Linked DNA regions of Homo sapiens: all the other regions are linked to region 3. The links come from fine-mapping of genetic effects on gene expression. A gene starts in region 3. Each other region holds a variant in brackets. All regions are shown on one strand. Distances are between the middles of the regions.

The links. PIP is the estimated chance that this variant, and not a neighbour inherited with it, causes the effect.
Region 1: its variant is fine-mapped to the expression of HNRNPLL in whole blood (TOPMed, PIP 0.98).
Region 2: its variant is fine-mapped to the expression of HNRNPLL in sigmoid colon (GTEx, PIP above 0.99).

What each region holds. Positions count from the first base shown.
Region 1 is chr2:38,697,555-38,705,736 of GRCh38, reverse strand. All of the region lies in intron 4 of GALM (galactose mutarotase), which reads right to left. All of the region lies in intron 1 of LOC124905993 (a long non-coding RNA gene), which reads left to right. Among named protein-coding and RNA genes, the nearest start is that of GALM, 36 kb to the right of the region's middle. The variant G/C (reference allele first, on the strand shown) is at 4,163.
Region 2 is chr2:38,724,195-38,732,376 of GRCh38, reverse strand. It overlaps GALM (galactose mutarotase), which reads right to left. Exons shown (of 7, transcript NM_138801.3): 5 at 2,680-2,821; 6 at 468-642. The region is part of intron 1 of LOC124905993 (a long non-coding RNA gene); the gene reads left to right. Among named protein-coding and RNA genes, the nearest start is that of SRSF7, 23 kb to the left of the region's middle. The variant C/A (reference allele first, on the strand shown) is at 3,504.
Region 3 is chr2:38,598,554-38,606,717 of GRCh38, reverse strand. It overlaps HNRNPLL (heterogeneous nuclear ribonucleoprotein L like), which reads left to right and starts at 3,790. Exons shown (of 13, transcript NM_138394.4): 1 at 3,790-4,280. The coding sequence starts at 4,092. RefSeq lists silencers at 3,611-3,680, 3,901-3,950, 3,971-4,070.

The DNA of each region.
Region 1 (8,182 bases), 99 kb before region 3:
CACTCTCAGGTGCTGACCCTGCACATGCACGACCCTGGGAGTGGATGCTGCCTTAAATTTTGCACCCTAGCCCTTGCTCTGCCCAACTGTCTCTTTGGCTTATTGGCTTAACAGTCATCACCACTCCTGCATTCTGTGCTTTGGTACTCTCACTCTCCTTGTGGCTAGATCCTCACAGACACTGAGAGGCTTCTCACAGCTCAGGACAATCTTGAGAATCCTCTTTCTACCCTGGCTTCTACACTCCTTCAGTCCCACAGGCATTATCTCTACAACTGCTCTGACCACATTAGGTTCTCCCCATCCCTCTGAGCTTCTCAAGGGCAGAGACAGTGTTCCATCCTCTTTATCTCTCAGGCAGCATGTAGCAATCAGTAGGTGCTCTATAAATGTTAGCTGAACTGAATACAAATCTGCTCTGGGAACTTACTTGAGTTAACATCAGGTCCGTTGCCCAAGGCCCACAGTCCCACTAAGCCCCTTCAGAATGTAGTGACCACTAAGGATGGCTATGCACCAGGAATGAACTAGAGGCAGCCCTTGTCCAGACCTGGGCTGGAGGAAGGGTAGATGTGAACCATCAACTCTCCAAGGGTGGTGGTCAGAGCTCTAGCAAATAATTCCCCTTCTGACAAATTCACTGACTGTTAGCCTGCAATTTTCACAGGAATTACACATCGCCTGGCCAAGTGCTAAATTTTGAGCTTTCTTCCTGCCAGATTTCTACCATGCTGGTTCATGTTTGCCAATCTTGTAACAGTAATGTGTTTTCCAGTAGGGAGCATGAGTAGCTTCAGGAGTTATTCTAGAGGCTCATAAAAATGATCTTGTGACCATTTTACAGGAAGGATTCAGTAATGTGCCGTCTTAAAGAATACCACTGCTACCAAGAGAGGTCCTTGGAGTTTTTGCATTAAACCTTGAATACTATCTAGCAGGGACCTATCATACAATAAACAGCTCTAGGGTAAACACATTTCATAGGGTCCAATGTCATGAGTTTAACTTTTTTACTGTTGTCCAAGTACTTTCTTATCTGTAGCCTTACTTTTTTTTTTTTTAATGGAGACAGAGTCTTGCCGTGTCACCAAAGCTAAGTGCAGTGCCCAATCATAGCTCAATTTGCCTTGAACCCCTGGGTTCAAGCAATCCTCTGCCTCAGCCTCATAAGTAGCTGGGACTACAGGTGAATGCCACTGGGCCTGGCTAATTTTTTGATTCTATTTTTTTGTAGTAAAAATGGGGTCTCTCTGTATTTCTCAGGTTCTTGAACTCCTGGACCCAATCAATCCTCCCGCCTTAGCCTCTCAAAGTTCTGGGATTAAAGGCATGAACCACTGTGCCCAGCCTCAAAAAAAATATTTTTTAAATTAGCTGAGCATGATGGGGGCATGCCTGTGATCCTAGCTATGCAGGAGGCTGAGGTGGGATGACCGCGTGAGCCCAGGAGGCCAAGGCTGCAGTGAGCTATAATTGCACCACTGCACTCCAGCCTGGATAACAGAGTGAGACCCTGTCTCTAAAAAAAAAAATAATAAAATAATAAAAAGAGAATACATAGTAGGGCAACCATAGACTATCATTACTTTGAAAGAGGAAAAAAGATAAGAAAACCCCCTTTGTGGGCCAAGGTGATGCAGCAAGTTCACAAAGGATTTTACATAGAATTTATTTTATTTTATTTTATTTTATTTATTTATTTATTTATTCATTTATTTTTTGAGACAGCGTTTCTCCCTGTCTCCCAGGTTGGAGCACAGTGGCACGATCTTGGCTTACTGCAACCTCTGCCTCCTGGGTTCAAAGCAATTCTTGTGCCTCAGCCTCCTGAGTAGCCGGGACTATAGGCACATGCCACCACACCCAGCTGATTGTTTTTGTATTTTCACAGAGAGGGGGTTTCAACATGTTGCCCAGGCTGGTCTCGAACTCCTGATCTCAGGCAATCTGCCCACCTCAGCCTCCCAAAGTGCTGGGATTACAAGCGTGAGCCACCACGCCCAGCCTTGGATTTTATATAGAATTTAAAGAGCTCATGATCCCCTTGAAGTTCTTTCATCATCTTCCCAGACATACAAGAACCCTAGTTAAGAATATCTGGGTTAGAGATTCTGTGCGGTCTTTGAATCAGGGTGTAAGAAATGGACAGGACCTCAGAGTTCAATGAATATAATCCTCATCAAGTCAGATTTTACAGATTCAGTCAATGAGGCCCAGAGAATTTTCATGGCTGACTCATAGCATAGCTAGTGGATGGCAGAACGGAGACCTATATCTTGGTTTTCTGAATCCCAGTTCTCACACAGTGTTGGGCTAATATACCGTGTTTAAGGCTGGGTGCGGTGGCTCACGCTTGTAATCCCAGCATTTTGAGAGGCCAAGGTGGGTGGATCACCTGAGGTCGGGAATTAGAGACCAGCCTGACCAACATGAAGAAACCTGTCTCTACTAAAAATACAAAATTAGCCAGGCATGGTGGTGCATACCTGTAATCCCACCTACTTGGGAGGCTGAGGCAGGAGAATCGCTTGAACCTGGGAGGCAGAGGTTGCGGTGAGCTGAGATCGCACCATTGCAATCCAGCCTGGGCAACAAGAGCAAAACTCTGTCTCAAAAAAAAAAAAAAAAAAAAAAAAAAAAAAAATATATATATATATATATATATATATATATATATATATAAAATCCCACATATCATCCCACCTCAGCCTCCCAGCCTCCTGAGTAGCTAGGATCACAGGCACACCCCACCATGCCCAGCTAATTAAAAAAAAAATTACACATATTATATATATATATATATAAAAAGTATATATATATAAATAAAGTGTATATATATATATAGTGTTTAAAACAAATGTAAAGGAGAGAGGAGTGTGGAGAGACTGGCTGGGGGCAAAATAAGCAATAGTTAATTCCTAGGATGTATAGGTTGGCTATTACTCAGCTTCATTTTTGTGTTCAGTATAGATTAGTTTTCTAGCTTCAACCCGAAGAGACCAAGCCTGAAGCTCCCTTCTAGCTCCCTACTTTGGATCTGTGACTAAATCCTGATGGATTATCTGAGCAAGCTCTGTGGAGAGGCAGATAGCAGAGACTGGCCACATCATGAATTCTAAATGGCTGATGTCATTACAAAAACCATAAGCAAGAAAGAATCTACAGTTTCCAGAAAGTGGGGGGAAAAGTTTCTAAGGAGAAAGTATGACTCTTGAAGAAGGAGGGTAAGGGTCATGTAGCAAAGAAGAGGTTATTGGGTGGTCTCTGTAGGCTGGGGGTGGGAAAGGGATGCACAGCAGGGTGGGGTGTGAGGGAGGCATGCTCGGAGATCATTTTTGTTTTTGTTTTTTGACCAGTGAAATGTTCAATTTTTTTTTTAAGTTTTAAAATTTTTAAATTTTTATTTTTTTGATCAGTGAAATGAGAGATGGTTTTGGGGAGGCCTGAGAGCCGTCTAAGAGGTTTATTAACCTGGAGATTATCAAAGTAAGATTTGCATTTTAGATAGATGCTTTTACATGGAAGATAGATCTTAAGATTTTTTTTTTTCCAGTTAGGTGTTAGAGTGCAGTTGTCCAGATTATGAATCATTCATTCATTGATCCCACTTTATGAAGCCCATAATATAAGCCAGGCACTAATCTAGACAAGAAAAGATAGTCTAAAGCAGCACAGTGAAAATGGAGATGGAGTTATATAACCAACAATACATACTGAGGAGACAGATTTGAGAAATGCTTAGGAGTTAAAAATCAGTAGGACCTGATGACTAATTAAGGCAGTGGGGAGTGAAATGGAAAGAGTAAGGATACTGACAGATGCTTGAAACAAATATGTCCAATATTTTAGAATTATATAATAAATTTAAAGGAATTTTCTGTCAGGAGCTCCAGAAAGATTAACACCCAAATGCTAATACATAAAGATCAAAACAGCCTTCGTTTGCAACATCTTTGAATGAGGAGACTACTTTGGACTTTGCTATTTCTCCAAGGCAGAGATAGAGACCTGCCCCAGGGAGGTAATTATATCATCTGCCGAATTGTAGGTTTAACCGACAGAGGTTGAAATAAAATACAAAAGTCTTGCTGGGCCTCTCTCCACAGCCTCATGGCAAGCGTTTCCTACCAGAATTCTAATTTTGTCAAAATGGGGTTGCTTT[G/C]ATGTAATTTTAGAATAAGCTTTTAAAAACTGAGAGCAGCAAGAACAGCAAGTGAACACAGATGGGCTGGGGGACAGAGTGAATTGGGTAAATTTTATAAGAATAAAAAAGAAGAGGGGATTTTACTAATGCTACTTTCAAAGGCAAAAGACCTAGTCAAAGCACTCATTTTTGCTTTCTTAATTCCTTATCTACTACTACAAATAAAGAGCAGCAAAATTATAAGGAAAAAAAAAACTGTGTGCTGTAAATGCCTTTAAAGACACATCCTTAGTAGTGCACTGTATTGTATACATCATAATGTCTTGCTGGGCAGGCTGCCCAGCTCACCTCCTAATTCTACAGTTCTGTGAGGTGAAAGGTGAAATGTAATATTTACAATCCTGAGAATGAATTAATCCCTGGCAAAATAGAAGGATTTGATTTTCTCATCTGCTCACATCTAGCTGGTGTAATACTTAAGCAGGGTACCAGGGATCTGTTTCTACTTGTTGCCACAGGGCAGGGAACTAGAATCAGGTCCTGAAGCTAAATGCCTGACATGTCTCAGACAAATAAAAACTGACAGAATTCATCACCACTAGACCAGCCTTATAAGAAATGCTCAAGGGAGTCCCACATCTGGAAGTGAAATGATAATTACTATCAAGAAAACACAAAAAAGTAGAAAACTCACTGGTAGAGCACATACACAAAGGAGAAAGAGAAAAGAATCAAATTTTACCACTACAGAAAACCACCAATCACAAGGATGAACAATAAGAGGGGAAGAAAGGAACAAAGGATATATTTAAAAAAACAGAAAATAATTAACAAAATGACAGAAGTCCTCACCTATCAATAATAATCTTGAATGTAAACTTATTAAACTTCCCCCCTTAAAATATATAGACTGGCTGAATGGATTAAAAAACATGGCCCAACTACGGTTGCCTACAAGAAACTCACTTCATCTGTAACGACACACATAGACTGAAAGGGTGGAAAAAGATATTCCATGCAAACAGAAACCAAAAGCAAGCAGGGTAGCTGTACTTGTATCAGATGAAACAGACGTCAAGTAAAAAACGATTAAAAAAAAGAAAAAGGTTATTATATAATGATAAAGGGATCAATTCAGTAAGAGGAGGTAACAATTCTAAATATATATGCACCCAACACTGGAGCGCCCAGATACATAATATAAAGCAAATATTATTAGATCTAAAGGGAGACATAGACACCAATACAATAGCTGGGGAATTCAACACCCCATTCTCTGCACTGAACAGATCATCTAGACAGAAAATCAACAACAAAACACTAGATTTAAACTGCACTTTAGGCTGAGCGCGGTGGTTCACATCTGTTATCCTAGTACGTTGGGAGGCTGAGGTGGGCGGATCACTTGAGGCCAGGAGTTTAAAACCAGCCTGGTCAACATGGTAAAACCCTGTCTCTACTAAAAATACAAAAATTAGCTGGGTGTGGTGGCGGGCACCTGTAATCCCAGCTACTTGGCAGGCTGAGGCACGAGAATTGCTTGAACCTGGGAAGTGGAGGTTGCAGTGAGTCAAGATCATGCTACTGCACTCCCAGCCTGGGCAACAGAGTGAGACTCTCTCAAAAAAACAAAAAACCCTGCATTTTAGACTAACAAAGAGACATTTACAGAACATTTCATCCAACAGATTCAGAAAACACATTATTTCATCAGCACAAGAAACATTTTCCAGAATAGACCATATGTTAGCCCACAAAACAAGTCTCAACAAATTTAAAATAATTGAAATTATATCGAGTATCTTTCCTGACCACAGTGGAATAAAACTAGAACTCAACAGCGAGGTGAACTTTTGAAATTGTACAAATACACAGAAATTAAACAATATGCTCCTGAATGATCAGTGAAGAAAATTTTAAATATTCTTCTCTTTTCTTTTTTAAGATGGTTCTTGCTATGTTGTCCAGGCTGGTCTTGAACTCCTGACCTCAGGTGATCAGTCCACCTCGGCCTCCCAAAGTGCTGGGTTTACAGGCATGAGCCACCGCACACAGCCTAAAGGTTGTTTAATGTTAATAAAAGTACAGCTAGATAGGGGGAATAAGTGCTAGTGCTCTAAAGCACTATAGGGTGACTATAATTAACAACAACTTATTGTATATTTTCAAATAGCTAGAACAGCAGATTTTGAATGTCCCAACACAAAAAAATGATAAATGTTTGAGGTGATGGATATGCTAATTACCCTGATTTGATCCTTATACATTGTAAACATGTATCAAAATATCCCAGTGTACCCTGTAAATATGTATTAGGTATCAATAAAATATGTATTAGATATCAAGTATTAGGTATCAATTAAAAATAATAACAGCTGGGGCCAGGTACGGTGGCTCATGCCTGTAACCCCAGCACTTTGAGAGGCCGAGGTGGGCAGATCACCTAAAGTTAGGAGTTCGAAACCAGCCTGGCCAACATGGTGAAACCCCGTCTCTACTAAAAATACAAAAATTAGCTGGGCATGGTGGTGGGCGTTTGTAATCCCAGCTACTCGGGAGGCTGAGGCAGGAGAATTGCTTGAACCCAGGAGGCGGAGGTTGCAGTGAGCCGAGGATGTGCCATTGCACGCCAGCCTAGGCAACAAGAGCAAAACTCTGTCTCAAAATAATAATAATAATAACAGCTGGACACAGTGGCTCATGCCTGTAATCCCAGCACTTTAGGAGGCCGAGGTGGGAGGATCACTTGAGAGCTCAGGAGTTCAAGATCAGCCTGGGCAACATAGTGAGACCCCATCTCAAAAACAAACAATATATAAACAAATGTCTGACAAAGCAGCACAGGGATCTGGCACTGCAGTGTTCTCTGTCTCTGGACATCCATTATCTACACCCCTGTCCTTTCTGGGAAACAGCTTCAGGGAGTTCTACTTCTGGGAAATTACAGGGACAGCCCTGACAACAATAAACATAGAAAACACATGCCAGAGGGACTCATATGCCCAACAACAGAGTGTGCTCCCATCCTATGGAGCAGCAAATGCTTTATGGGTGTCATTTTTTTCCTTTTTTTTTTTTTAAGTAGCTAAGAATAATTGCTCTGAAGACGCAGAGCTAAATTAACTGCTAACATCCAAACACAGCCTGACAGTGTACCTGCAAACTTTGCTCCTGGTCCATGGGTAAAAGGAGCTCTCAGCCTTGCAGAAACCTTCTGTTGGTGCCACCTGCCATGGGACAGGAAAGAAGCACCTGTGAGCAAGGGCTATGCACTCAATACACCACTGCTGACTCCTAAGTGCCGGAATTTCATCTACAGAGGTAGCTTTAGAAGTTAGGTGATGAATTCTATTCATTTATTTAAAATATATATATAATCCCAGCACTTTGAAAGGCTGAGGTGAGCAGATCACTTGAGGTCAGGAGTTTGAGACCAGCCTGGGCAATATGGTGAAACCCCATCTCTACTAAAAATACAAAAATTAGCTGGCCGTGGTGGTGCGCACCTGTAGTCCCAGCTAATTGGGAGGCTGAAGCAAGAGGATCATTTGAACCCGGAAGGCGGAGGCTGCAGTGGGCCGAGACTGCACCACTGTACTTCCAGCCTGGTGATGGAGTGAGACTCTGTCTAAAAAAAAAAAACCCCAAAACCCAAAATTGCCAACAGGAAGAAGGCAGGAGCAAAACAGGTGCTCATGGCTGCCAAAGATTTGTGGGTCCTGCCTGGGGTAGAGGTCTAAATGCCGGCTCTGCATTGAAGACGTAAGGGAATTTCTTTGTCTTGCTCTTGCTCTGGCTCCCTGTAACTGCATACCATGGTATCTCTTTTCTTTCTAGGTGATAATGCCCCATCCATAAGTGGGTTACTAACAAAATGGAGGACAGGACGTCACTCCTCCCCAAACACCTACAGGGGGAAGGTCCCCTTTTACTGAGCACTGTGGCCACAATTTTAACAGTTACTGCAAAATAAAAGTTGCTACATTCTCATGATGATGTGTTTTCCCATCACCTGAAAAATTATTTACCGAGTGTCTG
Region 2 (8,182 bases), 130 kb before region 3:
GAATAAGCATGAACTTTTGAGCCGGGCACAGTGGCTCACGCCTATAATCCTAGCACTTTGGGAGGCCAAGGCAGGTGGATCACCTGAGGTCAGGGGTTTTGAGACCAGCCTGGCCAACATGGTGGAACCCTGTCTCTACTAAAAATACAAAAATTAAGCAGGCATGGTGGTAGGCGCCTGTAATCCTAGCTACTTGGAAGGCTGGGGCAGGAGAATCGCTTGGACCCAGGAGGCGGAGGTTGCAGTGAGCTGAGATCGTGCCCAGGAGGCGGAGGTTGCAGTGAGCTGAGATCGTGCCACTGCACTACAGCCTAGGCGACAAGAGTGAGACTCTGTCTCAAAAAACAAACCAAACAAACAAAGCATGAACTTTTGAATCATACAAGCTGATTCGAGTGTAGTGAACTCTGTCGTACAGTGTGACCTTGGACACAACTCTACTCTGAAAAGCCAGCCTGTGGCATTACCTGATTGACTGCATCAGGCCAGTTCTGAGTCTCCAGGCAGAAACCGGAGTGCTTGGGATAGACAGCTCCATTCTTGCCCTTTAATGTGCCATCCAGGAAGTTGCCCGTGTAAAACTGGACCCCGGGCTGGGTGGTGTATACTTCTAGTACCCGCCCGCTTGCAGCATGATGCACCCTGGTAAGAAATACAAACAACATGAGTCCAGGGCAGAAAAGCAGGTGGGGAGGAGTAGAAGCTGGGAAGCGGCTTTGAGACAGGAATCAGACCCAGCCACAGAGCAGGGACAAGATATAAGGAGGAGATGAAGGTAGGAAGAGCATGATGGAAAATTCTTCCAGTCTCAAAGGCAAGGCATGAGCAGGTGGCTTTCAGGATCCTCAGTAGCTTCTTTGGGGCATCACAAAACAGACTCACTCCTGCCAGCTGGGGAGTAGGGAGGAAGGCAGCAGCCAGGTTGGAGAGAGGAAGGTCCTGGAGAGGCTGAGATTCTTTTTTTTTTTTTTTTTTTTTTTGAAATAGAGTCTTTCTCTATTGCCCAGGCTGGAGTGCAGTGGCGCGACCTCGGCTCACTGCAACCTCAGCCTCCCGGGCTCAAGCAATTCTCCCACTTCAGCTCCCCAGTAGCTGGGACTGCAGGTGCGCACTACCATGTCCAGCTAATTTTTGTTTGTTTGTTTGTTTTGAGATGGAGTCTGGCTCTGTCACCCAGGGAGGAGTGCAGTGGTGCGATCTTGGCTCACTGCAACCTCCGCCCCCTTGGTTAAAGCAATTCTCCTGCCTCAGCCTCTAGAGTAGCTGGGATTACAGGTACCTGCCACCACATCCGGCTAATTTTTTGTACTTTTAGTATTGTCGGGGTTTCATCATGTTGGCCCAACTGGTCTTGAACTACTGACCTCAGGTGATCTGACCACCTCAGCCTCCAAAAGTGCTGGGATTACAGGCATGAGAGCCACTGCACCTGGCCTGAGATTCTTTTTTTTTTTTTGAGATGGAGTTTTGCTCTGTTGCCTAGCCTGGAGTGCAGTGGCGTGATCTCGGCTCACTACAACTTCCACCCCCTGGGTTCAAGTGATTCTCCTGCCTCAGCCTCCTGAGTAGCTGAGATTATAGGTGCCCACCACCATGCCTGGCTAATTTTTATATTTTTAGTAGAGACGGCGTTTCACCATGTTGGCGAGGCTGGTCTCAAACTCCTGACCTCAAGTGATCTGCCCACCTCAGCCACCTAAAGTGCTGGGATTACAGGCATGAGCCACCACGCCCAGCCCGGAGAAGGTCTTTGATCTTCTTTCTGTCACTATTTGGTTTGAGTCATTTTTTCTGCTTTATTTAAAAACTGTTGACCGGGTGCAGTGGCTTACACCTGTAATCCCAGCACTTTGGGAGGCCGAGGTGGGTGGATTACAAGGTCAGGAGTTCAAGACCAGCCTGACCAACATTGTGAAACCCCATCTCTACTAAAAATACAAAAATTAGCTGGGCATAGTGGCACGTGCCTGTTATCCCAGCTACTCAGGAGGCTGAGGCAGGAGAATCACTTGAACCCGGGAGGCGGAGGTTGCAGTAAACCTAGATCGCACCACTGCATTCCAGTCTGGGCGACAGAGCAAGACTCCGTCACACACACGCACACACACAAAACTGTTAATTCTGCAAACATTTATTCATTATTTGCTAGTGCCAAGGATGATATTAGGTGTTGGGGTAGAGGTAGGGCTTCACAAAGATGAAATGGCATGAGGAACTGGGATTTGGTGAGAAGGCGAGAGCGTGCACACAAGTGTCTATCGGTCAAGGCTGGAGGCGGTGAGTGCTGCAGGAGATGCCTAGCCTCCAACTGGCCATGGAGTAGGCAGGCATAAGTCACAGATCGAGAAAGCACAAAGGCTCTGGAAGTTCAGTGACAGCCGAGGTGACTTCACTAGGAAGAGTTAAGGCTTCTAACAGAAAATGGGCCTTAAAGAACAGGCAGAGAGGGAGAGAGCGGGTGCCAAGCAGGGGGAATAGGGGTAATGGCAGGTGGGGGACTGGGATAAATTCTACAGAGCTCACCTGTGCCATGGGAGCTTTGAGAAAATATGGGATGTGGTATTGGGTCACTTGTAGCATAGTAAATGCTATTGATATGGCCAGAGGAAAAGCTCCAAAGGAAAATAGGACTTGGTGTCATTTCTTCCTTACAGACTCAGGAAGTGAAAAGTACCTGACCTTGCACAAAAATGCTTTTCTTTAGATCCCTTCAGACAGAAATTGTGGTCAAAACCATTGAGATGGAAGTCCTGCAGGTGTTTTCCAAGCTCCACTGGCTTTCTCAGGTCGAATGCAGTGCCTTGCACTGGGGCAACTTCTCCTGATGGGAAGAGACAGAAAACAAAGGTGATAAATGCCCAAGTCTCATCTTTATATAGAGCCTCCACAAAGGCTCACTGGTTCTACTCTCTCCGCCTTCATTTTAATTTGTTAAGGAGATGGGAGCCCAGATCCTGGGAAACATGCAGAGACCCCATCTCTACCAAAATAATAAAATAAATAAATAAATAAATGTAAAAAATTAGCCAGGCATAGTGATGTGTCCCTGTGGTCTCAGCTACTCAGGAGGCTGAGGCAGGAGGATTGCTTGAGCCCAGGAGGTCGAGGCTACAGTGAACCATGATTGCACCACTGCACTCCAGCATAGGTAACAGAATGAGACTGTCTTAAAAAACAAATATGGAGAGGGTGGGGAAGAGAAAAAAAAAACCCTCAAATAAATAGAGTATATGGGAGTATGGGCTCAGGTTATATGCAAATACTGCACCATTTTATAGAAGGAACTAGAGTATCTAATGATTTAAGTATCAGTAGGGGGTCCTGGAACCAATCCTCCATGGATTCCAAGGGACAATGGAAAATATATACTCATAAATATATAGTAACATATACATAAAAGCCAGAGTTGTTCTAGCTGAATCAAGTACAGGTTCTGAGCAGCGCAGGTGGAAAACCCCAGGATAAGATGATGGCAGAGGTCCACTTCCTCTTAAAATTATGGC[C/A]CACCCAGGAGTAGTAACAGCCAGGTGCTAGAACCTTGTACCAAGTACAGAGAATACCAGTTTCCTCTGTAGCAGGCCAAATCACTCCAGCCATTTTTTCTTGAAGAGGAAAAGAAAAGGGCTCTGTTTCAGAGGCTTAAACAATGTTACGGTTGAGTTTTTGTTTTGTTTTGTTTTGTTTTGTTTTTTGAGATGGAGTCTTGCTCTGTCACCCAGGCTGGAGCGCAGTGGCGCGATCTCAGCTCAGTGCAACCTCCGCCTCCTGGGTTCAAGTGATTCTTCTGTCTCAGCCTCATGAGTAGCTGGGATTACAGGTGCACACCACCATGCTTTTGTATTTTTAGTAGAGACGGGGTTTCACCATGTTGGCCAGGCTGGTCGTGAACTCCTGACAGGTGATCTGCCCACCTCGGCCTCCCAAAGTGCTAGTATTATAGGCGTGAGCCACTGCACCCAGCCAAAAAAAAAGTTTTTTTTTTTTGAGACAGAGTTTTGCTCGTCGCCCAGGCTGGAGTGCAATGGCACAATCTCAGCTCACTGCCACCTCTGCCTCCCAGGTTCAAGTGATTCTCCCACCTCAGCCTCCCAAGTAGCTGGGATTACAGGCACACACCACCACGCCCAGCTAATTTTTGTATTTTTAGTAGAGATGGGGTTTCACCATGTTGGCCAGGCTAGTCTCCAACTCCTGACCTCAGGTGGTCCACCTGCCTTGGCCTCCCAAAGTGCTGGGATTACAGGTGTGAGCCACCACTCCTGGCCTAAAAAGTTTTCTTATAGTCCCAGAGCTGTCTCATATATTTTAAAGGTAAATGCAAATGTTAGGAGGTTAACATACTCTTTTAGGGTGATAATTATTTTTCCCTTTCATGTGGTCAAATGGCAATTTTAGGAACTTGGCTTCCACTGTAATCAGGGGAGAGAAGTAGCATGCAAAGTAGGGCTGAAATCTTAGGAGGCTAAGAAAAAGCAGGAACTTGTACCTTACCATTAAAATAATTTAAAAAGTAAAAGAAGAACCAATTGCCAGTCATTTAAAACATTTGGTTCTGCTTTTGTGGGTTCCTAAATGCTGAGAGAACACACAAATCTATCTGAGTAAAAGAGGACATTTCATTTATTTTTCCTTTTTCTTTTTTTTTTTTTTTTGAGACGTAGTCTCCCTCTGTTGCCTGGGCTGGAGTGCAATGGCCAGTCTAGGCTCACTGCAACCTCTGCCTCCTGGTTCAAGTGATTCTCCTGCCTCAGCCTCCCGAGGAGCTGGGACTACAGGCACGCACCATCATGCCCAGCTAATTTTTGTATTTTTAGTAGAGACGGGGTTTCACCATATTGGCCAGAGTGGTCTCGAACTCCTGACCTCGTGAACCACCTGCCTTGGCCTCCCAAAGGGCTGGGATTACAGGCGTGAACCACTGCACCCGGCCCCATTTCTTTTCTTAAACTCAGAACTGCTGTTCAGAAATGTAGTCTTCCTAGTGCCTGAAGACTGGAGTTCTGAGTTCACATACAGCCTCAGGATGCCTAGGTACGAAGCACTCAAGTGAGACACTGAGGTCCAGGCGATACCATCCTGGTGTGTGGGTGTCCACTGTTTAACCGAGAGAATCTGGGAAGTGCACAAAGGATTCCTTGCTCTTTTTTTTTTTTTTTTTCTTGAGACGGAGTCTCACTCTGTCGCCCAAGCTGGAGTGCAGTGGCTCAACCTTGGCTCACTGCAATCTCTGCCTCCTGGGTTCAAGTGATTCTCCCGCCTCAGCCTCCCAAACAGATGGGATTACAGGGGCACACCACCATGCCCAGCCAATTTTTGTATTTTTTGTAGAGACGGGGTTTCAACATGTTGGCCAGGCTGGTCTCAAACTTCTGACCTCAAGTGACCCACCCACCTTGGCCTCCCAAAGTGCTGGGATTACAGGTGTGATCTGGCCAAATTTTTAAATAGGGAATATTTGCACATGCAACCAATTTTTTTTTAAGACAGAGTTTTGCTCTTGTTGCCCAGGCTGGAGTGCAGTGGCGTGATCTCGGCTCACCACAACCTTGGCCTCCCAGGTTCAAGCGATTCTTCTGCCTCAGCCTCCCAAGTAGCTGGGATTACAGGTGCCTGCCACCACACCCAGCTAATTGTTGTATTTTTAGTAGAGATGGGCTTTCACCGTTTTGGCCAAGCTGGTCTCAGGTGATCTGCCCATCTCGGCCTCCCAAAGTGCTGGGATTATAGGCAGGAGCCACTGAGCCCGGCCGAGACTACTTCGGCTTGCATTTGTCTGGTTTACTTTTGCATTCTTATTCTGAGTCACTTGGTTTGTATACAGCATTGTGTTGGGATTAAATGTGAGAGACTTGGCCAGGCGGGGTGGCTCATGCCTGTAATCCCAGCACGTTGGCAGGCCGAGGCGGGCGGATCACGAGGTCAGGAGATCGAGACCATCCCGGCTAAAACGGTGAAAACCCGTCTCTACTAAAAATACAAAAAATTAGCCGGGCGTAGTGGCGGGCGCCTGTAGTCCCAGCTACTTGGGAGGCTGAGGCAGGAGAATGGCGTGAACCCGGGAGGCGGAGCTTGCAGTGAGCCGAGATCCCGCCACTGCACTCCAGCCTGGGCGACAGAGCGAGACTCCGTCTCAAAAAAAAAAAAAATAAAAAAAAAAAAATAAAGGCACTTTTGTTTCCCAGTAGATGGTGCTAGAGACACAATAGAAAGAGGTTGCTTTACATCCTCTAAACCCTGATCAGTTCTGGCAGAATTCATAGTTGAACTTTTTGGATCTTGAAAGCCAAAGGCCAAATCCTAGATAGCAGTGTGACCCACTTGGGTATGCTTTTGTCCTGCAATGTTTACATGATATACTACCTCCCAGACTTGCATGGTGGCTCATGCCTGTAATCCCAGAGGTTTGGGAGGCTGAGGTGGGCGGATCACTTGAGGTCAGGAGTTTGAGACCAGCCTGGGCAACATGGCGAAACCCCGTCTCTACTAAAAATACAAAAATTAGCCAGGCGTGGTGGCGCATACCTGTAATATCAGCTACTCAGTAGACTGAGGCACAAGAATCGCTTGAACCCGGGAGATGGAGGTTGTGGTGAGCCAAGATTTCACCACTGCACTCCAGACAGAGTGAGACTCTGTCTCAAAAAAACAAAACAAAACAAAACAAAAAAAAGAAAAGAAATGAAAAGAAAAAGGCAACAATAATTCTTCTTTTTCTTTTTTAAAGACAGGGTCCTGCTATGCTCAAGTGATCCTCCTGCCTCAGCCTCCTGAGTAGCTAGGACTACAGGTGTATGCCCAATTATATATATACGTGTGTGTGTGTGTGTATGTGTGTGTTTAAGAGCGAGGGTCTCGTTCTGTTACCCAGGCTGTAGTGCAGTGGCATGATCACAGCTCAATGCAGCCTCGACCTGCCAGGCTCAGGTAATCCTCCTGTCTCAGCTTCCTGAGTAGCTGGGACCCCAGGCATGTACCAGCACCCCTGGCTAATTTTTAAATTATTTGAAGAGATGGGGGTCTCACTTTGTTGCGCAGGCTGGTTTCAAACTCCTGGGCTCAAGCAATCCTCCTGCCTCAGCCTCCCAAAGTACTGGGTTTACAAGCATGAGCCACCATGCTCAGCAATTCTTCATGAAACAATTAGACTTGGAAAAAAAAGCAGGTATTCTCATGGGCTCAGGAAGATTTTAGTCTTACCAACCTATATTCTGAGTGGTAACTTATGCTTTCTTCTATAACTTTAAATGGTGTTACAATATTTAATTCTTCCTTAAAGCCACAGTCAACTCAAAATCTAACCCTTATGACAGTCCTAGTGTGATCGACTCAGGTCAATCAAAATTGCTTATAATTATCTCCCTTAAAGTATAACTACAGGTAGAAGGCTTGAAGAAACAAAGAAAGCTACAAAATTTTTGTGAAGGAAAGACAGAGGGCATACATCAGGTCTCTTTCCTGTTACCAAGCAATCTACAAATCAGTGTTTGCTTCAGCTCTTCCCTCTGTAAAACGAAGCTGTTATTAGCTGCCACATTACATGGAAATATTTGATAAATGGTATGCTTGAACACCTTCAGGAGTCTGGCATAAATAAATATATATAACAGGGCCAAATTTCAGGCTACCATATAGAACACAGAGCAGAGGGCACAGAGGGTAAGACTTTAAGCATGACAAAGAAGCCCTGACTTAAAATTAGAAAACTGGGACAATTCTAAAATGATGAAATTTTTGGTAAATGAGAAGAAAAAAACAGTGAAGGCTCCAATCTATCTTGTCCATCCTCATGCACTGACACACTTGGTCATGTGCTTAATGATCAAGTATATGGAAAATGTGGAATTTGTCCCCCAGATTCGCCATGTCTCTGGGCCCTTTCTCATAACTAGAATGAATGTTCCTTCTGGGTCCCCTATGCCCACCACAGTCTGGCAAAGTCCAATTGATCGTTCAAGAATATTCTCTAACATAATTTCTTCTTGTGAAATATTCTAACCTCTATAGCCAGGACCAATCTTTTTTTTCTTTGTTCTCATTATACTTAGAATAGACTTTTCTCAAAACGTTCATCATATTATGACATAATTACAGGATTTGTCAAAGTCAAATAAAATATAGAGATGAATCTCTCAATGTTTTATTTGAGAATCACAGAATTGGCCAGGCATGGTGGCTCATGTCT
Region 3 (8,164 bases):
CCACAGCCTGGGCAGCAGAGTGAGATCCTGTCTCAAATAAAGAAATAAATAAAAAGGAGAAATCAGTGAATGAATTAGCATCATTATATAATAAGTGACTATAAATTAGATCTGTATGTCCATGGTAATAAATAACACAATAATTAAATCATCAGTCTTCTGATGACGAGTACTGGCTCTGGAACCCGATTGCTTGGGTTCCAGTCCTGGCTTTTCAATTTATTAACTGCAGCTCTAGGGCAGGTTTCCTTTTTTTTCTTTTCTTTTTTTTGAAACAGGGTTTCACTCCAACACCCAGGCTAGAGTGTAGTGGTGCAGTCACGGCTCACTGTAGCCTGGACCTCCCTGGGCTCAGGCAATCCTCCCACCTCATCCTCCTGAGTGGCTGGGATTACAGGCACGCACCACCATTCCAGGCTAATTTTTACAATTTTTGTGGAAACAGGGTCTTGCCACGTTGCCTAGGCTGGTCTCAAACTCCTGGGCTCAAGTGATCTGTGTGCCTCTGCCTCCCTCTGTGCCCAGCCTAAGGCAGGTTTCTTAATCTCCCCTAGACTGTTTCTTTAATTGTATACTGGGAAGAGTAATAATAATGCCTCTGGTAGAAGGCTTCTGTCAGAATTTATTGACAAAACCCTTTCAGTGGTTAGCACAGTGACTGGCACATTAAATGTGGCTATTAATTATTGTATATGTATTATTACATATGGATGCTTGTAGCCTATCTCTTGGGTATGAGCCTTGTTTCCACAACTTGATTGCAAGCTTTGAGAGGGCAGGGACCAGCTCACGTAGTCCTCTCATCACCTAGCACAATGTCTTATAAATTTTATAGATCAGTAACGAGATTTAAAACTAAAGGGCAATTTGAGGCTGGATTGATTATAAAGGCCCTTGACTCTCAATTTCCCTAGGCCTGCCCTAAGCCTGTCTCCTACTCCAGTATAGCTGGAGTCCCCTTTGAGCTGTGGCAATGGGAGCTCTTGGCTGCTGCCTACTTGACAGCAGCGAATTCAATCAAATGTTCAGAAAATAGTCAAAGGTCTGAGGCCGTAATGCATGAGAGGTTCCAGACAGTCATGGCATTTAGGAGCTGTTTCTGCTTTTCTTAGGTATTTCTGGCTACTGGGCAGTGTGTAATTTCTTTGTCTCACCTAAGTGAAATAATGTAGAGTATAATTTATGTCCTCTCTCTTTAGCTCCTCATGCCCTGGTGATGAGCTAGCTAGTATTTTCCTTATCAAAGGACCTACTGTCACTGTCTGAACAACTCATCTGCAACAAGCTCGCATTTCACCCATGGTTAACGAACTGATTGGTGTCCTTTAAAAATGCTTTCTAAGTTTTACTCCCTCAATATTTTTTTTTTTACTCAACTGGGCTACTTACAAAAAGAACAAAGTTTAATACTGGTACATATTGAATTCCACCTGCTGTTTGTGAACGCTGAGCACAGCAGCCCTAGGTTTGGCAAGGCTGGATTTCCTTACCCATTGGTGTGACAGTTGCATTGTAATGTGGTATAATCCATAGGTTGAATGCAGGGCTTTGAGAATTTAAAATATTTGCATCTTCACAAGAAATATTTGGAAAGTTTGTATAAGGCCTAGTAAATCCAGTTGTGAGTGAATAGAATTTACCAAACTAAATTCACCTAGCATATGAAAATGTACATAAAACAAAATTAACAGGTAGTTGCTCATACTTAACAAAAAGATATTTAGTGCTTCTCATCACACTCAATTATTTCACATAATATTCTATTGTTTTCTTTCTCCTAAAAAATAATTGTTTTAAGCTCTCAGCTCTTCTCTTTTAATTTGAGCAAACTAAAAATATCTTGAGAATGGCCCATCTCACCTCATCAAAGAAGTTTCCTTTGTATCAAGTTTATTAATTCACTCATCCTTTCCTGATCTTTGATACTGAGACTGCTATAAAAAGGACAATGGATGCTAAAGATAACACGTGAAGTAGGTTTGTTAGACCTTTTTTTTGACCCTTGGTATCTTCAGCTTTCTGAAGGCCAGGTAATGTCTGCATTCTGAATATGTTAGGGGACATATGAATCCATAGGACATATTTTAAGCAGAATTGTATCATTGTTTCCCTTGTTGCTATTTTACTTTCCCAAACCATTGCAGAGCTTTTTGCCAATGACATTTTCTCATCCGCAGCCAGCTCTGCCACTCTTTTGCTATTTCTTCTGTCGACTTCCATTTTAATTTAAAAAATAAATTTATAATTTTTTTAGTTCTGTTTTGTCAATGTATACCTGCAGCCGCACACACATTTGATTATAGCTGCATAGTGTGGAAAATCTTGCAATTAGATTCCAAAATGACAGCCGGTGTAATTTACAAAGTACAAAAGTGTTATGTTAAAGCACTCTCAGCAATAAATAAAAATAGCTTTTTTGGAGGAGGAAATAACTTTGGAGAGAACTAGGCTGGAGGAGGAAGCAATCTACACTCTTAGGAAAGGAAGAGCCACATCTAGGAAAGCATCCGAGGGACAAGGACAACAGAAACACAAGAGGCTCTTGATCTCAGGCAGTCCTCCAAGAGGCACCTGACAGAGGGCAGTTAGGTTGCCTTGATTTGCCAGTTTCTGTCCTGAAAGATACACTGGACCTTTATTTCCCAAGGACTACTCATTCAGCATTGTTGAGCACCTAAATTGTGCTGGAGATCGCACAGGAACTGGGCTTGCGAAAATGAAAATTGCACACAGTTCCTGTCTTCAGGCGCTCACAGAGTTTTTAAAACAGAACATCTTAAGAGGGAGTTATAAGGGGCCCTGTTGCAAAAAGAGAGCAGCAACTAAAATCTTGGAAAAGCCCTCAGGACACCACAGAGGAAGCAAGCTGTGATCACAGAACTTTGAAAGGCTTTTGTATCTTTCGACAATAAATGATCAAGTGAAGTAAATACATTGTCCAGAAGAGAAAGAATTGGGATGGAGGATGAGATTTTATATGGAAGGATTAAAACATATTTAACTGGAGCAGGGACTTACAGGGACAGGCAAGTCAGTAAAGGGCCCAGGTTACAAACGAGTTATAACCGATCAGACCGACGAGCGCCCGCGTGCAGCGCCTCCTGCCGACGCGCGCCTCGCAGCCTTCAGTCAATGCTGACAGCTGTTCTCCAACACCCAGCTAGGGGCGGGAGGGTCCGCCCACTTCTACCAGATTTTGCACACAAAACAGTGGAAAGACCATTCTCATGGCTCCAAGCCGTTTTCTCCCTTCATCGCCTGCAATTTTAGGGCTTTTCGGGGGGTATGACTGCAGGGATTTTAGAGGTTTTTTTCCTCATTCTCTTTTTAAGAGGTGATAAAAAGCATTTAAATTAGCGGCAGGGCGGTTAACACCCGCAGCCCTAGCCTCTCCGCACTTCTCGTCGCTCGTCCGTGTTCACTCCACGCCTGGCCTCGGGTAGGAGCCGCATAGCGCCAACGGTTGCGGGTCGCAACTACTCCCAGGCGGCGCGCCTTGCGCGCCGGGCCTCCCAGGACCGCGGCGAGTTCAGAAGGCGCGGGGAGAGAAGTGAGGTCGAGCAGCGGGCGGCTTTTGACGAACGGCCCTCACAGCCAATGGGAAGCCCGGTCGACTTTCCCGCCCCTGCCAATAGGGAGCAGAACCCGGGCCGGGGGGGGCGCTTCCCGCAGGCTGCGGCTGGATTCGATCCTGCGCGACGGCCGCGAAGGCGGGGGCGGAGGCTCGGCCTGCGCGGCTGGGAGCGGCTTAGGGGAGGAGGGAAGACCGGAAGCCACGGTTGCGTCCCCATCCTTAGATTCGCTCCTCCGGGCAGGGAGCGGAGACGGAGGAGGAGGAGGGAGAGGCTGAATGTTGGCTCGGTAATTGAGAGGAGCGGCCGCTCCAGAGCTTCCTCCCGGGGCGCCCCCCTCAGTCCGTCCGCGCTTCTCAGCCGCCAGTCTCCTGGCCGCGCAGTCCCCGCGGACGGCCGGGCCGCGGAGACCCTCGCAGAAGAGGCGCTGCCGGCGGCGAGGACTGGCCGGCGGCATCCGAGGCGCGCGCCCCACCGCCACCCCCACCCGCCTGCCAGCCGGTCCCTCCGGCCGCCGCCATGTCCTCCTCCTCTTCCTCCCCCAGGGAGACGTACGAGGAGGACCGGGAGTACGAGAGCCAGGCCAAGCGTCTCAAGACCGAGGAGGGGGAGATCGACTACTCGGCCGAGGAAGGCGAGAACCGCCGGGAAGCGACGCCCCGGGGCGGGGGCGATGGCGGCGGCGGCGGCCGGAGCTTCTCTCAGCCGGTAACAAAGCGCGGCCCCCCTGTCCGCTGTGCCTGGCTGCTCCCCGGGAAGCAGGGCCTCGGTGCGGGGCCTCCCGCTTGCTTCAGTTAGCCTTTTCCGCTGCGCCGACCCGTTTGGGGAAGCGCCCACTCTTCTCTTTGGGGCTCGTATTCTGGCCTCTACCTGTTTCCCGCATCCCGACTGCGAACCCGGCGCCGTCCTGGCCGCAGGCCCCGCAGCGAGTCCACTGCCGGGCCCTGAACTTGGGGAGGGTCGCGGCGCGGCGGCGGCGGCGGGGAGGCGTCGCTTCCGCTCTGGGGGGTTTCGCGGCTCGGGGAGCTCTTTGTTAGTTTAACTCCTCGGGCTCGGGGCCAGCGTCGGGACCACCGGTTCTCTTCAGTCCCTCTGCCCGCAGCAGCCGCGCGTTGGTCACCATCCCGGGATGGTTGCGTCGGTTCTACCGGGAGCTCTCTCCGCCTCGGTCCTATGGAGACCCGTAATTAAATAACAGATTATGCCTTGGCGTTCACATGCTAGTTCCCTTGAAGGTTTAATTTAAAAAATTTTAAAATTAAACTCTTTATAAGCATGGCGTGCATCCTTTGCTCTACCCAATTTTGTGGATTACTCAGTACACTTTTTACCTCTTCGGTTACAACACTTCAACAGAAGTGTTGGCAGCTGTTGGTACACCCCTACCTTCAAGTAAAACAAATCTTAAAATTACTAAAGTTTTTCATTGGTAATTTATTCCACATTTGCCCCATGAAAGGATGAAGTGAGCTCAGGGTTGCATTAAACACACATTCCTAGAGCCAGGTCTTTCTCTTACCAGAAATGTTAGGGGGAGGCAGAAGGAATGTGATCATTTTGTCCACAGCAAGTAGTTAGCTTCAGTTGGATGGAGACTTTAAGGAAACAAAGCGGAGCAAACGTTATTGCCCTTTTTTGGTGCACTTAAGCGGTTTTAATGACTTAGATGTTATTTAAACATTTAACACATGAATTGTGATTAATTCTGCAAACTTTAACAGAATTACGAAACTGTACACATATATCCTACTATTAGGTTAAAAGGGTTTTTACCTTACCTTTTAAAAATAAGACGCACATTAGAAGCCCTTTATAGCCGTTTGAATTTTTAAATAATAAAAAAAAAGGCTGGTCAGTCACCCAGCGTTGCAGTTTCCAGTTACCAGGATGTGAGAGCAAACTTTGCAACACATTTAAAAAAGGAACTTTTTCTCTCAGTCTTGTTACGGTGTTAGCTATTACTTTAGATTTTTGTGCCGAGCTATTTGAAATATTCAAAATGTAACTTGGAAGTGTGAATAAAGGAAATGGTTTTTTCTTAGGAAGTTTCAGTTCAAAGCCAACTCTGTTGTGGAAATTGGAAACAGGAATATTATAACTGATATTTCGATGTATTCGATCAGTGTACCTCGTTGCTAGAAATCTTGCTTGGGTTTTTGTGCAGCATCATGAAATGTCTTCAGGCATTTTGGAAAGATACTTAAATCAGATTATAAAAATTTGTTTTTGAAAACAGATAAAGCATTAAATCAATAGTATTATTTTGGATGTTGGGAAGAAAATAACATATAATTAATGTATCCAAAGCGAAATGTGTGGAGCGGTGGAAATGGCACTGAGTAGGGCTTGGGGGTGGTCAAGAGTCTAGGCTTAGCATACAATTTTTTTTTTTTTTTGAGAGGATCTCACTCTATGGCCCGGGGCTGGAGTGCAGCAGCTCTGGAGTGCAGCAGCTCGTGATCACGGCTCACTGCAGCCTTGATCTCCCTGTCTCAAGCGATCCTCCTACCTCAGCCTCCCGGGTTGCTGGGACTGGAAGCCTGCATCACCACGCCGGGCCAATTTTTTTTTTCTGTGTTTTGTAGAGAAGGGGTTTCACCATATTGCCAAAGCTAGTCTCTTAACTCCTGGGCTCAAGAGATCCACCTGAGTTGGCCTCCCAAAGTGCTGGGATTACAGCCGTGAGCCACCGCACCTGGTCTTAGCATACAATTTGTGTGAGTCTGAGAAAGTCAGTTTACTACTCTGAGTTCTCTTAGTCTGTAAAATATGAAGGTTGAAACACATGCCTTTTTTAACCGAAGCTATAGTTAAGTGATTAACGTAATGCTAATGCTGCTTTTAAGTTACCCCGGCGGGAACTGATATAAGCAGATTGAGGTATAAATTTTAATTTTTTTGTTTATCTTACTGCTGATATGTTTCCTAGGAAAGGGTGAATTGTTTTCATTTAACAGTAAAACCATCATTGTACTATGAAATCTAATGAAGCCTTGTTTATCTTGTTTTTAAATATTTTTCATGTAATTTTTGGTACTATTTTGAAATCATGGCAACTATGGAAACCTGTACATAATAAAATTCTATTATTAGGATAGACGTTCCCCGGATAGAAGTTTACTGTCTTGTGCTTCTTCGTTCACATGTTTGGTAATTCATTGTAACCGAAAAGGGTTTTGCACAACTTCAGTGGTCCTTCAGCCCAGAGAAGAAATACCTTTGTGGTCAGACTGTTAAAGTAAATGCAGGTTAGGTACAATGATGGCATTCTTTTCAACTCTAGTTGGAAGTTTGTAAAGTGCAAAGTAAGCCTTTGAAGATTTACATTGCTTGGTTTTTTATGATTAACCTTGAGTGCTTTGATAATATATTGACTACATTTAAAGAGGAAAGTGAGTATTTAAGAAAAACATAGTGGTTCTACAAAGGCTCTTAACTTAGAAATGAATGGATAATTGTGAGTGATCATTATGTTGAAGGTACAAAGAGAAATGAGAGAAGAGTTAATACTTTGGATATGAGAAATAAAACACCCTTCAAATTTGTGTCTTCTGGTACCTTTTTTTAATAGAGCAAAAAACTCCTAGGGTTTTTCACATTCACTGAGCTGCATTGTTGAATAAGGCTTGATTATAGAGGTTCCTGCCACATATTATACAGTTACTTTTTTCTTGTGGAGTAGTGTTCTTAAATTTAATAGGCATGACCTTCAAGATCATATTAAGTTTCTGTATCTTCTTTTAAGAAGGCAGCTTGACTTGGAAATATTAAGGCTTCACTTGGGAAAACCACTTGAGGAATTGGGATGGAGTGCTAATTTATTTTGGAGATTTTAAAGTTTTTCTGTTTTCTGCTAGTGAATAAACAGGCAAATCAAAGATTATTAAGTGGTTTGCTGATGAAGTGAAAATTTGTTTCTCAACTTTTAGTAAATAGACGTGAAAGATGGCAAAATGCCAAGATAAAATTGTTGCTCCTAGGATTTCCAAACAAAGGATTATACAGCACATTGAAAATCCAGTTTGAATTCAGGATACACTATTCTGTTATACTTGCACAATGTAAATTACTAATGATAGCAATATTACTGTGATCTGTTAGATGCATATGGGTTGGGAGATGGGATGAGGTCACTTAGCTCTCACAGGAGAAGTTTAGAAGACTGTGTAGTAACTACTTCATGGAAATAAAGTAGTTAAAGGATGTGTGCCCCAGAGGTAAGTGCCAGAGCCTGAGGCTTGCATAGCAGTAGTGTCTTGTGTCTCCTCCAGCGAAGCTGTTCTAGTAGAGTGAGGATTTTTAGGCCTAGTTTGGGGAAAGAAATGAAAAGTAGTAGGTTTTACCATCTTTTGGTTTTAGACTGTTTCTTCATGTTAGTATGTTACGGTGAAAAGAGCTGTTCATAGAGCCAGTAGCACAATCAAGGCAAGTGTATTGGCTCTGCTTACAAACTTTTTCACTTAACCTCTCTGGAACTCAGTGATCTCTAGCCTCATTTAAAACACAATAATTGAGCTTCTACCATATGTCAGGTGATGGGGCTATAATAGTGAAAAAATGTTACATATCTAAAAATCTGGTTCTACATCATA